2 separate regions of the Homo sapiens genome follow, and region 1 is linked to region 2. A link means that fine-mapping ties the variant in region 2 to the expression of a gene that starts in the linked region. Tissue or cell type: iPS cells. Region 2 holds a variant in brackets; the other region holds the start of a gene. All regions are shown on one strand. Distances are between the middles of the regions.

Region 1 (8,186 bases), 58 kb before region 2:
GGAAAATGGGGCTAATGATAACACAGACCTTTTAAGTTGTTGTGAGGATCATTAGATAATGTTTATAAACTACTCAGCAGAATGGCTAGTGCAGAGTAAGCCTCAATCAATGTTATTACTACTTTTTATTATGTTCGGTACCGTTGTCTTTTCTCTACACACTCGCTCTTTGGTCAGGCTCACCTACACACACAGCTCCCAGCAGCACCTACATGTGAGAAATCCCCACCCTTTATGGCCAGCCCAGACTTCTCTACTGAGTGCTAGGTCCATATGCCCTGTCACTGGCTAGATTTCCTCCCCTTTGATATCCCATGCACACCTCAAATGTGACAAACTCACGGCAGATCTCACCCGCATCCTCCTGTAAATCTACCTCTTCTCTGACTGCCCTACGCTGGTGACTGGCAGGTCCCCCTGAGTCATAAACTTGGGCTTTGTCCTTGACTCCCATGTCTCCCCGGTTTCACTGTTCCAGCAACATTTGATCAGTTACTTAATCCTTCCTCTTAAACATCTCTCTGAGTCATCCAGCCTCTCCTGGATATTGCCTTTGTCACTGCTGAGTCTGTCTTGATTTAAATTTTTGATATTTTAATAATAAAATTTTTTTGATATTTTGTTCATCATGTATTTTGTGCACACATATTTATTTCTAAAAATATTGCATTAAAATATTATTTATTATTAATAACTTGGGGTTTTAGCACTTCCTTAAATTTTACATCAGAGATAAGCACCTCACTTGCCTTACCTTATTCTTGGTCCTGCGGACAATTTTTCTCCCACTGCAGTCTCCTATAGTATCCTGCCAGTATTGTATTTCCAAAACGTAAGTAGCTCAAGACACACCCTTGTTTCAATGCATTCAGTGTCTCCCGAGCTTTGCGATTCCACACCACCTCCACCCCTCCCCCTGGACCCTCTGATCCAGCAATAGGAATCCATGTCTTTTTCTTAAGGTGGCCCCACTTTTACATCTCTGTGCCTTTGGAAACAACAATAGCCTTTGGATAGTGATTTTTTGACTATCCTTTAGTTATCTGGGATGGTTGGAAACTGGTTATCCTTGCAAATAGCTCAATGCTTAGGCTTTTACTGATAAAATCTAAATTTCAACTATACTGTATCAAAATCCATCTAAAACTTATGACACATCTCTGTGGTCTTCCATATATAACACATTCATGACTTTAAATGCTCTTTATGACTCAGCCTCATGCTAAGCCTCAGTTATGGTGCTTTTCTATAATCCCGTGATGCCAACCTCAGGAGCCATTGAGATTTGTAAGCTGGTGCTATAATCTAAATGTTTGTGTCCTTCCCAAAATTCATACGTTGAAATCCTCAACTCCCAAGCGATGGTATTAGGAGGTGGGGCTTTGGGGGAGGTGATAAGATCATGAACCTTCATGAGTGGGATTATTGTCCTAATAAAAGAGGCCCAATGGAGCTCATTCACCCCCTTTCACTATGTGAGGACACAGCTAGAAGGCGCCATCAGTGAACCAGGTCTTCAACAGATGCTGAATGTGCTAGCAGCTTCATCTTAACCTTCCCAGCCCCCAGAACTGTGAGCAATACATTTCTGTTTTAAAAGCTACCCAGTTTTTGGTGTTTTGTTACAGCAGCCTGAACTGGCTAAGACAGTCAGCTTGCCCCTAAACTCAATGTTCACATACAATTCATTCTTTTTCTTGTTTGGTTGTATTCTTCCAGAGTATCTTCTTGTTCCTTCTGATCTCTGCTCCCTGCTGTCACTGGTTCTGCTTTTTATTCTTCATCCCCAATTGCTTGGTCTCATTCCATTTTCTTTTTCCACATAACTCCAGCCTTAACCTTGGTCTTTGTCACTGTCTCCGCTGTCTGTGCCATCCCAGTACTTCTCTTTGTGGGTGCTGACAGGGCTTAATAATAAAGCTAGCCAGGTGCGGTGGCTCATGCCTGTAATCCCAGCACTTTCAGAAGCTGACGCGGGTGGATCACTTGAGGTCAGGAGTTCGAGACCAGCCTGGTCAACATGGTGAAACCCCGTCTCTACTAAAAATTCAAAAATTAGCCAGGCGTGGTTACGCACACCTGTAATCCCAGCTACTCAGGAGGTTGAAACATGAGAATCACTTGAACTCGGGAGGCAGAGGTTGCAGTGAGCAGAGATCATGCCACTGCACTTATGCCTGGGTGACAGAGCAAGACTGTCTTGCTCTGCCTAAAAAATAAAATAAAAAACAAAAAGTATAACCTTAGCCAGCCTATGACTGTGCTGTCTTTTGCTCTGCTAACTGATTCACCCATTTTATTATTCAGTCGCTGTATTCTTGTCTCCTTTCTTCTCCTTTTACTTTTGGATGTGCCATTGTTCTGATTAGTTGAGAGGTGCCGAACAGATAACTAATTATGGCAGTGTGAGCCACAGGATAATTCTCAAGTGATCTCTGCTGTAGCATGTCCCCACATAGGGCATAGTGGGCAAGGTTAAGAAGGAATTCTAACCTTGAATACCTGAGGACCTGACTCCGTTCTCATTCTCTATCCCTGTGCTCATCAGAAAATGCCAATCCTAAGCTATTTGGGTGGGGTTGGTTGGAGAGACATGGAAAAGTACCCTGGGCAGCTGAAGTGCCTGTTAAATCTTACCCACATTTGAACAAATTCACTCTAAGTTGATTTGGTTCTCCTTTAAAATGAGAGAAAGCAAGGACTTAGACTGCCAATTGCCCCCTGAAATTATCTTTGGCTGCATTAAAGAGCTTCACAGAATGACAGTTACTTTTTATTATCAAGAGCTTACTTGTAATTATAAAGTATAGAGAATATACATATATGCCAATGAATGAAGCATGGGAACACTAATAAATTTAAAAATTCAACAGGCTCCTCAAACAACTGGGCCCAAGACAGAAACTGCTCAGAGCAAGATTTTCAAATAGATCTTTTTCTAGTGACTGAGATATTTAAGAAAAATTGGCATAAAGTAGAACCCGGAATCTTCTGTTCACTTATTTTTCTGGCTATTACATCATCCCTGAAAATAAACAAATAAATAAAGCAGGGGTCAGAGAAGGTATAGTACTTTTTGGATGCTGACTATGGATAAGGCTTTTTGCTTGTTTCCACAGCACTTCCTATCCCTGCTTTCTGTATCCTTGGAAAGAAATGTGGAATAATGAAAATAGCAAAAGGCTTGGCAGCCAGGCAGGCCCAGGTGTGATCTCAGTCCCACCATTCATTCTCTGGGTGGCCTTGGGCAGGTCACTCTAACTCTGTGAGCCAAAGGGTCACTAAAGCACCCTTCCTGGAATTCCTTTGAGGAGTCAGTGAGGGAGCACACAGTGAGTGGGGCTTCCCTTCATATCCCCTGCTCTGGGCCAGGGACCAGGACCTGGTGTCAGGGTCTTTACCCAGCACTGTACCAACACTTGCTCTCCAAAATGGGACTAGGGTGAAATTTCTTCACAGTATGAAAATAATGGCCCAGGGAACGAAGCAAATGCCAAGAGCTGAGCCTTAGGGAATGACTAGTAGGCCCAGATTCTTGGGGTGACTTCCTTCGAAGACTTCATTTGTTAACACCTTCCTTCCCTTCTTGTTAGTTTCAGTGGGAAGTAGGATTGGGGTGATTTGGAGAAGCAGTGGGGAATTTAGTTAGGGGAGACTCCTGGGTACCTGTGGGGACATAAAAAGGGATTGGTGTGGGATGGCAGGTAGAGGCCACAAGAGGAGGGCGTGAATGCTACATGAAGGAGTTTGTTGTTGTTTGGTGGAAGAGGAGGAGGTATGCATGTGAGGAGGGGTGGCCATGAGCCTGGAGCTGTCCTGCAGGGCAGCTTCTTTCACTCTGCTGCGTATGTGGTGGAGAGCTCTGACCCACCCTGCTCTTGAGTGTTTCTGAATGCTAGGAGCGGGGACAAACCTGCAAGGCTGATTGGATGTTGAGGAACAAGTATGTAAAGAGAAGTGTATACATAAAAACCAAAAATCCCTGGGGCTTTGAATCCTTCTAGAGCTCCTGGCCACCTTCTTCAGGACAGCAACTGACAGTGTTGTGAAGTGCTTGGCTTTGTCCTTCTCGCAGGCCATCTGGGCTAAGTAGTGAGATCCACGTGGCCAGGAAGGAAGGCATGCATCTCCCCAGGCCTGTGGCTCTCCTTGTATTGACCTTGCTGCTTCCTGGGCTAAGCAGCTGCAGTGAGGGTGTGTTGCCCTGAAGCAGTTACGTCATTCATTAATCCAAATTCTGAAAGACAAATGAGCATATGGTGCTAAAATACTTTTTTTTTAAAAGCCACAGTTTCATTGTCTTAGTCAAAGCAAGATTATTACGTGATTATTTTCAATTCAATATATTTGTTTTGGAGACAGTTTCTTGCTCTGTCACCCAGGCTGGAGTGCAGAGGCACTATCATAGCTCACTGCAGCCTTCAACTCCTAGGCTCAAGTGATCCTCCTGCCTCAGCCTCCTGAGTAGCTGGGACTACAGGCACCTGCCACCATACCCAGCTAACTGTTTTTCCAGTGTTTTTAGAGACAGGGTCTCACTATGTTGTCCAGACTGGTCTCGAACTCCTGGCCTCAAATGATCCTCCCACCTCAGCCCTAAATTCATTTTTTTAAATTAGCAATTTCAAGTATAACAAATTTGGAATAAAGGTTTGTTTTCTATTAATAAAAATGAATAGTGACAAAACCCCCAATATTCTAGATTGTGAGACTTCCCTCTTGTTGTAGTTGGACCACATTTAAGGACTAAATTGGAAGGAAGGAGCAAGAGGAGTCTGTGACAAACCTGTGGTTAAGCTCTCTTTGAAGAAATCGCACAGTATGGCTCCGTGCTCTGAACATGCTCTGTGTCTGCCCTTTTTCAAAGGCGAGACAGCCACCTCGAGGCCAGTCAGACCATGAATAATGGTCTAAGCCCTTGCCACCAGGATGGAGAGGTCTGAGCAGTACAGTGAAGAGGCTTCATCAGCAAGGGCTGATTCAACGGCACCTCTCTCTGGATTCAATGGCATTCTTTCTGGAGGTTAGCCCATTTCTTTAAGTCAGCTCCATCCAAGTTTGATTATCCTTCTTTGAATCTCTTCCAACAATTTGACATCCTTGAGGTTGAATAGCTGAAAACTGCACATAGCGCAGCACTCCACACAAAACACCTTTAGAAATTTCTAGTTGAGAAGAACTTGGGCAAAGTCAAATCTCCCCACTTGATTTTGTTTATGTTCCTCTCTTGGGATTTGTCTTGGGCATGTTACTGTACAAATAACTGCTATCATCATCATCATCAACACCAGTTTTAAGAATTATAATAGCAATAAAATTGACTTACCATTTTTGAGACTGGAGTTTTGTTACCTGATATGGTTTGACCCTGTGTCCCCACCCAAATCACATGTCAAATTGTAATCCCAGTGTTGGAGGAGGGGTCTGGTGGGAGGTGACTGGATCATGGGGGCGGACTTCCCCCTTGCTGTTCTCATGATAGTGAGTGAGTTCTCATGAGATCTGGCTTTTTGAAATGTGTAGCACCTCCTCCTGCTCTCTATTCCTCCTGCTCCTGCCATGTGAGACATGCTGGCTTCCCCTTTGCCTTCCGCCATGATTGTAAATTTCTCGAGGCTTCCCAAGCCATGCCTCCTGTACAGCCTGTGGAACTGTGAGTCAATCAAACCTCTTTTCTTTATAAATTACCCAGTCTTGGGTAGTTCTTTACAGCAGCATGAGAACAGACTAATACATTACCTAAAACAAATTTTGGAAACAAATCAGGTCATTAAAAAGTGCAAGCACGGCCAGCCATACTAAGCCACCTGTTCACTGTGTTGCTGGGGTTTTTTTTTTTTTTTCAATTTATTTTTTTGAGCCAGCATTCTTTTGTGAATATCAATTTCTACTGGGCAATCAGGCCATGTGGTCTCTCCTCTGGACTGGCCCCTACAGCCTTCCACACTCTGTGACACTCAGTGGCCACAGGCCCCTGGAAAATTGGATGTGTGACTGAGTCTTTAAGAGGTGGAGTGACTTACTTTAATTCAGTAAGTCAATATGTTTTAAACTCAGATTGTTTGTTCCACAATAGGAAAAAGCTGTGAAATTTCTTGTCTCAGCTCTGTCTACCACTACTTTGGAGGGGCTACAGGTATCAGTGAGATAAACCAAAGTCAGATATTCAAACTGGGGCATAAAATGTTCTGCATGAGTGTCAAGAATGGTTCTTTGGGTGTGGCGAAGGGTTCACACCTACATTTAATTTTCGAAATGTGTTTCTTAAAAATATGCCAAAAAGATACCTAGAAAAACACATATCACTGATTGAAATATGTAATGCATTTAAATATACATACATATGTATATACACACACACATATATGTTTTCATAATCACACTAATATCTGCCCTGCTACACTGATGGTCAAATATTTTGGGAGAGAACATCTGGCAGCCTACCTCTAGTCATCTTTTCCTCTATAAAACTCTTCCAATACCCTGTTCTAGCTATGCTTAACCTTCCAAGCTTATCAAACAAGTCAGGTTCTCTCTCCACTCCACACATTGCTCAAATTGCTTCCACTGCCTCAGATATCCTGCTCTGCCCCCATTCTTAACCTGGCTACCTACTCTTAGAGTTTCAGTGATCTCTTCCAGGAAGCCTTCAAACATGCACACACAAATACTTGACTAGCATCTCATGCACAGATACTTGCATACTTGACTGGTACCTCATGCTTACTTCTATCAGATGATAGCGTTGGCTACCCCGTATAGGACGATCTGTTTACTTATCTGTCCCCCGCCACACCAGACATAGGCCATCAGGTCCACCAGGACTGGTGTCTTTATTGTTGCATGTTTCCATTCTTCACACAGCACCTGGAAAATAGGTAAATAAATATTAAGTGAGTGAATGAATGAATGAATGAATGGGATGAAGGAATGAATTCTTGCTACTGACTGGTGCATAGTTGCTACGCACATCCACCTCCAATTCAGCTCCCTGCTGGAGTCTGAAATTGAAGGCTGGTGGAGAGAGGATTTGGTCTTCCTAGGCAAAATGCAGTTACCTGACTTAACCATTCACACTCCATGTGGATGGGATAAAAACACCTAAGTGAGTTTTTCTTGTCCTGGTGATTTTTGTAGCAGTTTGTGGCTCATTTTTATCAAGTCTAGATACAATTTTCTTTCATGTGCTATGAAGTCTTGGTTCCTGTAACACAAACCTCTTTAATCATTAGTCTTTCTGGTAGAATTTGATAGGGGCCATATAAAATGCTTCTCTTCATCTGCTAAGAGCCATTTATGGACACTTACTATGAGCAATATACATTGCAAAAGACCAGAAAACTCACCCTCTGCTTATGATTCAGCACTGTAACATGATAGCCTGGAAACTAGTCTGATAGTTTAATCAGTGCTATGTGATCCTTATTTGTGGTTGGCTGCCTCATCAATTTTCATTTGGGAATTGAAATGGACTCTGAGGCAGATATGGCATTAATTATGGGGGAAATTGGTTGCAATATGCCTTGAGGTAAAACCCTTCTGATGGGAATCTAAGATTGAAAGAAAGCCAAATTATAAAAGGATGATTTACTGAAAAAGGCAAATGTATGCATTACCATCACTGCTTAGCAGAGAAAAAGTTGCTGATAAACCAGAAAGATTGTGGCATGACTGAAAAGTGAGGAAAATCTCTAGGTCTAGCTCTCTCAAAAAAAAGATTTATTCTTATGCTGAATGCATTATATTTCCCCAGATACATACAACATTTTCCAAAAGTGTGCTTCAATTAATAGGCAAGCAAGCATTAATACTAGTTGGCAGGGTCCCAATTTTCTTCTAGATTGAAATATATTTACTAAGAACTGAATAGGGAGCATCTAGGGACACCAAAGTTAAAATTCATTTTACCAGTTGTAGTATCTGCTGTTGTATCAATTTTCTTGTTAAAATACCACATTTTTTTTACCTGAAGATTTCAAAAACCTTCTTAGTTAATACCCTATTTTTCCTATCACTGAATCTTGATGAGGTAAAATACAGAGGAAAAGTCATCATAGAAATGTCTATTCCCAATTTAATATGAGAAAACTGAGACATAGGAAGCTTAAGTTAGTGCATTGTTTAAAAGCAACGTATTTTTCTTAATTGGATACAAAACAGAGTGAGTTATCAAGGAAAGTACCAAC
Region 2 (8,186 bases):
TTAATAGTTGCATTACAGTTAGCCAGGATGGGTTCAGCAGACTTCTGGAGCAGATGCTGTGATGTCATCCCAGAGTCTCCTCAAGACTGAAGGGCTACTCCACCAGCTGCAGCGAGGGCTTCTGGCAGAGATCCCCAGCTGTCAGCCCTCATCGGAATTGCTTCAAATGAAGAGTGTCATCTCACCCACCACCATGCCCTCTTCCCAGGGTGCCCACAGCCAAGAACTGGTTTATAAGGAGATATAAAGGTCTGGCCCCCACTTTGTCTAGAGCTGGCCATGTGGTTGCTCTCTGTTGAGGCTGAATCATAGGCTGTGATGGTTAAGATTGAGTGTCAACTTGATTGAATTGAAAGATGCAAGGTATTGTTCCTGGGTGTGTCTGGGAGGGTGTTGTCAAAGGAGATTAACATTTGAGTCAGTGGACTGGGAGAGGCAGACCCACCTGCAGTCTGGGTGGGCACCATCTAATCAGCTGCTAGAATAAAGCAGGCTGAAAAAGGTAGAAAGAGCAGACTTACTGAGTCTTCTGGCCTTCCATCTTTCTCTCTTGCTGAATCCTTCCTGCTCTTGAACATCAGACTCCAAGCTCTTCAGCTTTTGGACTCTTGGACTTAGACCAGTGGTTTGCCAGGGGCTCTCGAGCTTACGGCCACAGACTGAAGGCCACATTGTCGGCTTCCCTACTTTTGAGGTTTTGGAACTCAGACTGGCTTCCTTGCTCCTTAGCTTGCAGACAGCCTATTGTGGGACTTCACCTTGTGATCTTGTGAGTTGATTCTTCCTAATAAACTCCCCTTCATATATACATCTATCCTATTAGTTCTTTCCCTCTAGTGAACCCTGACTAATGCATCAGCCAACTTCTCTTCCTGCCCCATCCTTCTTCCTTTCCCCTTCCAGAGGTGGTGATCCCAAGACCACTCCCTAGCAAACCTCCTGTCCACCACTCTCCATCTCCAAGTCTGCTTCCTGAGTAGGCCACAGCCTCTGACAATTGCCACTTGGTGCCTTCACTTTTTTTTTTTTTTTTTTTTTTGAGACAGGCTCTCAATCTGTTGCCCAGGCTGAAGTGCATTGGTGTGATCATAGCTCACTGCAGCCTCGGCCTCCCGGGTTAAGTGATCCTCCTCCCTCAACCTGCTGAGTAGATGGCACTACAGGTGTGTACCACCACACCTGGCTAATTTTTTAAATTTTTGTAGAGACAGGGTCTTGCTATGTTGCCCAGGCTGGTCTCAAACACCTGGCCTCAAGCGATCCTCCTGCCTCAGTCTCCCTAAACACTAGGAATACAGGCATGAGTCACTGTACCTGGCAGTGCTTTCACTTTCTGCTGTGGACTTGTCTAATGGTATACGAAACAAGAGCAGTCAACTGAGTTCCTACTCTTGTTAAACCAGAGGATGCCCAGGGATAACCCACCTCACTTTTCCCAGCCTTATCTAGACACACTACGTGGTAGACAACGATGTGATGTCCAGCTACCTCTTCAAAGGAGGACTTGAGGAGGCTGAGGCAGGAGGATTGCCTGAGCCTGGGAGGTTGAGGCTGCAGTGAGCTATCATCATGTCACTGCACTGCACATACCCCACTGTGGGTGGTACAGAGACAGCCTCTGGCCAAGACTTTGTCATGCCCATATCACTGCTGGACATCTTTCACTGCCCAATCCTGCTTCTTCTCTCTTCCACAGGTGTTGGTGCCAAATAAACCTCGGGCCCTAAACTTCTAGGCATCTGCCTCCGGAGAATCCAACCTGCAACACAACTTAACTAACACCTTCCTTTCCAGGACAGCTTATGGGGTGCTCCCTTATCAAAGAAAGGGTGCTAGCAGCTACAGGCAGCACACTCTTTTTATCTGGGATAATGGTGAGAGAAGATTTGGTGCTGTGGTCCCTGCTGGCCCCTTGATGTACCAGCCAACTGTAGTGACTTCAATTTGAGATGCCTGAAGATAGCAGGATGCCATTCAGTGCTGTCAGTGGAAAACACCGGACATTTTAGTCTAGGTATATATACAATATTTATGGAAAATAGAGGTCAAGAATTCCTGCCACATAGCATATGAAGAAAGAGTCTAAATGCTCTTGCAACAGCGGTTTTAACATTAATGGTATGCTGTATAAATCGACAACTATTAAATAATATTATTTGGTAACTTTCATGCACGTCCGTGTGAAGAGACCACCAAACAGGCTTTGTGTGAGCAATAAAGCTGTTTATTTCACCTGGGTACAGGTGGGCTGAGTCCGAAAAGAGAGTCAGCGAAGAGAGATAAGGGTGGGGCCGTTTTATAGGATTTGGGTCAGTAAAGGAAAATTACAGTCAAAGGGGGTTTGTTCTCTGGCGGGTAGGAGTGGGGGTCGCAAGGTGCTCAGTGGGGGTGCTTTTTGAGCCAGGATGAGCCAGGAAAAGGACTTTCACAAGGTAATGTCATCAGTTAAGGCAAGGACCGGCCATTTACACTTCTTTTGTGGTGGAATGTCATCAGTTACGGTGGGGCAAGGCATATTCACTTCTTTTGTGATTCTTCAGTTACTTCAGGCCATCTGGGCGTATACGTGCAAGTCACAGGGGATGCGATGGCTTGGCTTGGGCTCAGAGGCCTGATATTCCTGCCTTCTTATATTAATAAGAAGAATAAAACAAAATAGTGTTGAAGTGTTGGGGCGGCGAAAATTTTTTGGGGGGTGGTATGGAGAGAGAATGGGTGATGTTTCTCAGGGCTGCTTCGAGCGGGATTAGGGGCGGCGTGGGAACCTAGAGTGGGAGAGATTAAGCTGAAGGGAGGTCTTGTGGTAAGGGGTGATATTGTGGGGTTGTTAGAAGAAACATTTGTCGTATAGAATGATTGGTGATGGCCTGGATACGGTTTTGTATGAATTGAAAAACTAAATGGAATAACAGAAGGAGAAAAACAGGTATAAAAGGTCTAAGAATTGGGACGACTCAGGATGTCTGATTAGAGAGTGTTTAAGGAGATTTGGCATAGTCCTGCCAGCAAAGATTATTTATTTACTTCAAGAGTTAAGAGTGGCAGTTTGGGGATAGCACCAGGAGATATCAGCTGTGATGGCTTGGAAAAACAGTGTAAACTGGCAGTGTAAACAAGAGCAGGGCATGTATGAGTAGTTGAGAACGGTGAATAGGAGTATGAGTAGACAGAAGATAGTAGGGATGACAAGTTTTTTTGTTTTTTTTGAGGCACAGTCTAAGTTGGTCTGGTGTCTGGAATGAGACTGGGGCGTAATAAAAAGGAGTGTCTATACAGGACCTTAAATGGGCTGTACCCTGTAGCATTACGAGGACAGGCCTGAATTCTGAGAAGGGAAAGTGGTAAAAGTATTGTCCAGTCCTTTTTAAGTTGGTGGCTGAGCTTGGTGAGGTGTGTTTTTAAAAGACCTTTAGTCCATTCTACTTTTCTTGGAGGACCATAAGGGATATAAAGGTTTCACTGAATACTAAGAGCCTGAAAAAATGCTTGGCTGATTTGACTAATAAAGGCTCATCTGTTATCAGACTGTATTAAGGTGGGAAGGCTAAACTGAGGAATTATGTCTGACAGAACGAAAGAAATGACTGCGGTGGCCTTCTCGGACCCTGTAGGAAAGGCCTCTACTTATTTTGAGGGCCTCTAAAAGTATTAAAGCAGCAGCAGCCGCTGCACGCAGACATGAGGGCTAGGCTAAAACAGTAAGGTCAAGTTGTTTGGACAGAAAGGCTACAGGGTGTGGTCCTGGCTCTTGTGTAAAAATTCTGACCGCGCTAACCATGCCTAGGAAGGAAAGGAGTTGTTTTGTAGAAGGTGCTTGGGTTTGAGAGATCAGTCGGACACGATTGGCAGGGAGAGCACGTGTTTTTATGAGAATTATGCCGAGATAGGTAACAGATGAGGAAGAAATTTGGGCTTGATTGAAGTAATGGGGGCTGTCTGAGAAGCTTTGCGGCAGTACAGCCTAGGTAATTTGCTGAGCCTGATGGGTGTCAGGGTCAGTCCAAGTGAAAGCGAAGAAAGGCTGGGATGAAGGGTGCAAAGGAATAGTAAAGAAAGCATGTTTGAGATC[T/C]AGAACAGAATAATGGGTTGTAGAGGCAGGTATCGAGGATAGGAGAGTATATGGGTTTGGCACCACGGGGTGGATAGGCAAAACAATTTGGTTGATAAGGCGCAGATCCTGAACTAACTTGTAAGGCTTGCCTGGTTTTAGGACAGGTAAAATGGGGGAATTGTAAGGAGAGTTTATAGGCTTTAAAAGGCCATGCTGTAGCAGGCGAGTGATAACAGGCTTTAATCTTTTTAAAGCGTGCTGCGGGATGGGATATTGGTGTTGAGTGGGGTAAGGGTAATTAGGTTTTAATGAGATGGTAAGGGGTGCATGATCGGTCGCCAAGGAGGGAGTAGAGGTATCTTATACTTGTGGGTTAAGGTGGGGGGATACAAGAGGAGGACGCAAAGGAGGCTTTGGATTGGGAAGAAGGGCTGCAATGAGATACAGCTGTAGTCCAGGAATAGTCAGGGAAGCAGATAATTTAGTTAAAGTGTCTCAGCCTAAAAAGGGAACTGGGCAGGTGGGGATAACTAAAAAGGAGTGCTTAAAAGAGTGTTGTCTAAGTTGGCACCAGAGTTGGGGAGTTTTAAGAGGTTTAGAAGCCTGGCCGTCAATACCCACAACAGTTATGGAGGCAAGGGAAACACGCCTTGAAAAGAGGGTAATGTGGAGTGAGTAGCCTCCGTATTGATTAAGAAGGGGACGGGCTTACCTTCCACTGTTAGAGTTACCCGAAGCTCGGCATCCGTGATGGTCTAGGGGGCTTCCGAGGCGATCGGCCGGTGTCAGTCTTCAGCCGCTAAGCCGAGAAGATCTGGGAAGGAGTCAGTCAGAGAGCCTTGGGCCAGAGTTCCAGGGGCTCTGGGAGTGGCTGCCAGGTGAGTAGAACAGTCCGATTTTCAGTGGGGTCCCACACAGATAGGACACGGCTTAGGAGGAATCCCAGGCTGCGGGCATTCCTTGGCCCAGTGGCCAGATTCCCGGCACATGTAGCAAGCTCCTGTGGGAGGAGGTTCTGGAGGAACGCCTGGCCGCTGCCGTTCAGGCATTTGGAAGTTCTTGTGTGCTGGAGATGTGGCTGGGGTTTGTCTCACAGTGGAGGCAAGGAATTGCAACTTTTTTCTATTATTGTACACCTTGAAGGCGAGGTTAACTAAATCCTGTTGTGGGGTTTGAGGGCCGGAATTTAATTTTTGGAGTTTTAATGTCTGGAGCAGATTGGGTAATAAAATGTATTTTGAGAATAAGACGGCCTTTTGACCTTTTAGGGTCTAGGGCTGTAAAGCGTCTCGGGGTTGCTGCCAAACAAGTCATGAACTGGGCTGGATTTTTATATTTGATGAAAAAGAGCCTAAACGCTTCTGATTTGGGATAAAGAAAAAGGAGCATTAACCTTGACTATGCCTTTAGCTCCAGCCACCTTTTTAAGAGTAAATTGCTGGGCAGGAGGGGGAGGGCTAGTCACGGAACGAAACTGTAAGCCCGACCAGGTGTGAGGAGGGGAGGCGATAAAAAGATTATAGGGTGGAGGAGCAGAGGCTGAGGAAGAATTGGGACCTAGCTCGGCCTGGCGAGGAACAACCTGGGGAGGAAGGGAGAGGTCAGATGGGTCTGCAGAAAAGGAAGATTAGAAAGACTCAGCGACACTTGGGGTTGGTACTGAGGGGACAGGCGGGAGGGAAAGAAGGAAGATTTGGGACGAGTTGCACTGGTCACAGAGACTAGGAAGGGACTGATGTGTAAAAGAATGCCTGGACGTCAGGCACCTCAGACTGTTTGCCTATTTTACGACAAGAATTATTGAATTTTGCAGGATGGAAAAATTCAAAGTGCCATTTTCTGGCTATTTGGAACTACTGTCGAGTTTGTATTGGGGTCAAGCAGCATTGCAGAAGAAAATAAGGCATTTAGGTTTTAGGTCAGATGTGAGTTGAAGAGGTTTTAAGTTTTTGAGAACACAGGCTAAGGGAGAAGAAGGAGGAATGGAAGGTGGAAGCTTACCCATAGTGAAGGAGGCAAGCCCAGAGAAAAGAGTAGAGACAGGGAGAAGGGGCGGAGGGTTCTTGCCCTCCAGGAAAGCAGAGAAGGGGTTGGGGCAGGGAAATAAGGGATTGGGGCACAGAGATAAGAGGTCAGGGTGCAGAAATAAGTGATTGGGGCACAGAGATAAGAGGTTGGGGTGCGGCGGAAATAAGCGATTGGGGGGTTCTTGCCCCCTAGGAAAGCGGGACTTGCCGCTAAGGGTGAAGGAGAAGGGGTTGAGGGGTACTTGCCCCTGCCCCAGGAAAGCAGCACTTGCTGCTAAGGGTGAAGGGGAAGGGGTTGAGGGGTACTTGCCCCTGCCCCAGGAAAGCGGGACTTGCCGCTAAGGGTGAAGGACCAAGGCAGGCGTCCCTGCATGGTCTGACACCCTTGAAACGTGAGTGTATACTCAGAGAGGCGTCCCTGCAATGATCAAACACCAAGGGAAGGCTGCCTTCCCAGTCCGTGACCGGCGCCGGAGTTTTGGGTTCACGGATAAAACATGTCTCTTTTGTCTCTACCAGAAAATGAAAGGAATTGAAATTAAGAGAAGGGAGAGATTGAAGTGTGGCGCCACGATTGAAAGGAGAAAGAGGTTGAGGGATAGTGAGGGAGGTTGGAGAAGAGAGTAAAAAGAGGCCGCTTACCGGATTTGAAATTGGTGAGATGTTTCTTGGGCTGGTCGGTCTGAGGACCTGAGGTCGTAGGTGGATCTTTCTCATGGAGCAAAGAACAGGAGGACAGGGGATTGATCTCCCAAGGGAGGTCCCCCAATCCGAGTCACAGCACCAAATTTCATGCGCGTCCGTGTGAAGAGACCACCAAACAGGCTTTGTGTGAGAGCAGTAAAGCTGTTTATTTCACCTGGGTGCAGGTGGGCTGAGTCCGAAAAGAGAGTCAGCGAAGGGAAATAAGCGTGGGGCCGTTTTATAGGATTTGGGTAGGTAAAGGAAAATTACAGTCAAAGGGGGTTTGTTCTCTGGCGGGTAGGAGTGGGGGTCGCAAGGTGCTCAGTGGGGGTGCTTTTTGAGCCAGGATGAGCCAGGAAAAGGACTTTCACAAGGTAATGTCATCAGTTAAGGCAAGGACCAGCCATTTACACTTCTTTTGTGGTGGAATGTCATCAGTTACGGTGGGGCAAGGCATATTCACTTCTTTTGTGATTCTTCAGTTACTTCAGGCCATCTGGGCGTATACGTGCAAGTCACGGGGGATGCGATGGCTTGGCTTGGGCTCAGAGGCCTGACAGTAACACGTTTTAACTTTGCAAAAAATGTTTTGGCATTAATGGGCTCAAAAAGTGAAAGGAAATGTGTAATGGAAAATCAAATACTTTGTTCATGAGAATGTTAATGACAAACCTATAAATCCCAAAATGTTTATCAACACTTACCATGGGGGCTATATGACATCACTCACCACATGAAAAATAGAAAACACGAATCTGCTAAACTATTAGTATCTACTCTCATTCGAGAGTACATTTGAGATACATACTGTGCATGAACATGAGGACTTGACACGTGCAGACAAGGAAAGTATCCTGTGAAGCATGGCTTTTCATTTGGATCAAATGACTGCCTCTCTAAATCTGCACTCTGTGTCTGTTGTACACATACAAAAAGTGAAGCTGATGGGGTTCAGGGCATGCTGCTCCAAAATATGGTTCCTTGGCGTATTGAATATTTTAAACGGAAGAAATTTGAGGAAAACAGCAGAAGCGGGAAAGTGTCTCTGACTTTCCCCCAGCCTCCTTCCCTGATGCAGTTCATAAAACCTAGGAAAGATTTTCTGACCTTCCCCTGAAAGAGGTCATAGACTCTCATGTAAGATGTGCCCTCTCTATGCCAGGAAGAAAGGAACATCCTTATCCCTGAAAACAAAAGGTCACAGAAGGGAAACTGAACAAACTGGCCTTGCTGAGTTTCCCCAGTTTATAATCATCATGTCATACTTTTCACCCTATTATATTTCTCTATGACTCTCCTCTCTTCATCAAACCCAGCATAAAAATACACAGGTTTAAAAAATACACAGGTTTAACTGTTTCTTCAGGTATTTATTTCCTTATGAAAGCTCCCATTTCATGTAAAATGCATGTTAAATAAACATG

Evidence for each region. PIP is the estimated chance that this variant, and not a neighbour inherited with it, causes the effect.
Region 1: it holds the start of LINC01050, and the variant in region 2 is fine-mapped to the expression of LINC01050 in iPS cells (HipSci, PIP 0.95).

The regions. Positions count from the first base shown.
Region 1 is chr13:42,807,606-42,815,791 of GRCh38, forward strand. LINC01050 (long intergenic non-protein coding RNA 1050) reads right to left here and starts at 4,957. Exons shown (of 3, transcript NR_125747.1): 1 at 4,787-4,957; 2 at 3,914-4,237; 3 at 2,761-3,025.
Region 2 is chr13:42,865,838-42,874,023 of GRCh38, forward strand. It overlaps LINC00428 (long intergenic non-protein coding RNA 428), which reads right to left and starts at 6,907. Exons shown (of 5, transcript NR_126389.1): 1 at 6,721-6,907; 2 at 4,764-4,865. RefSeq lists enhancers at 2,218-2,820, 4,444-5,233, 6,814-7,602. The variant T/C (reference allele first, on the strand shown) is at 4,070.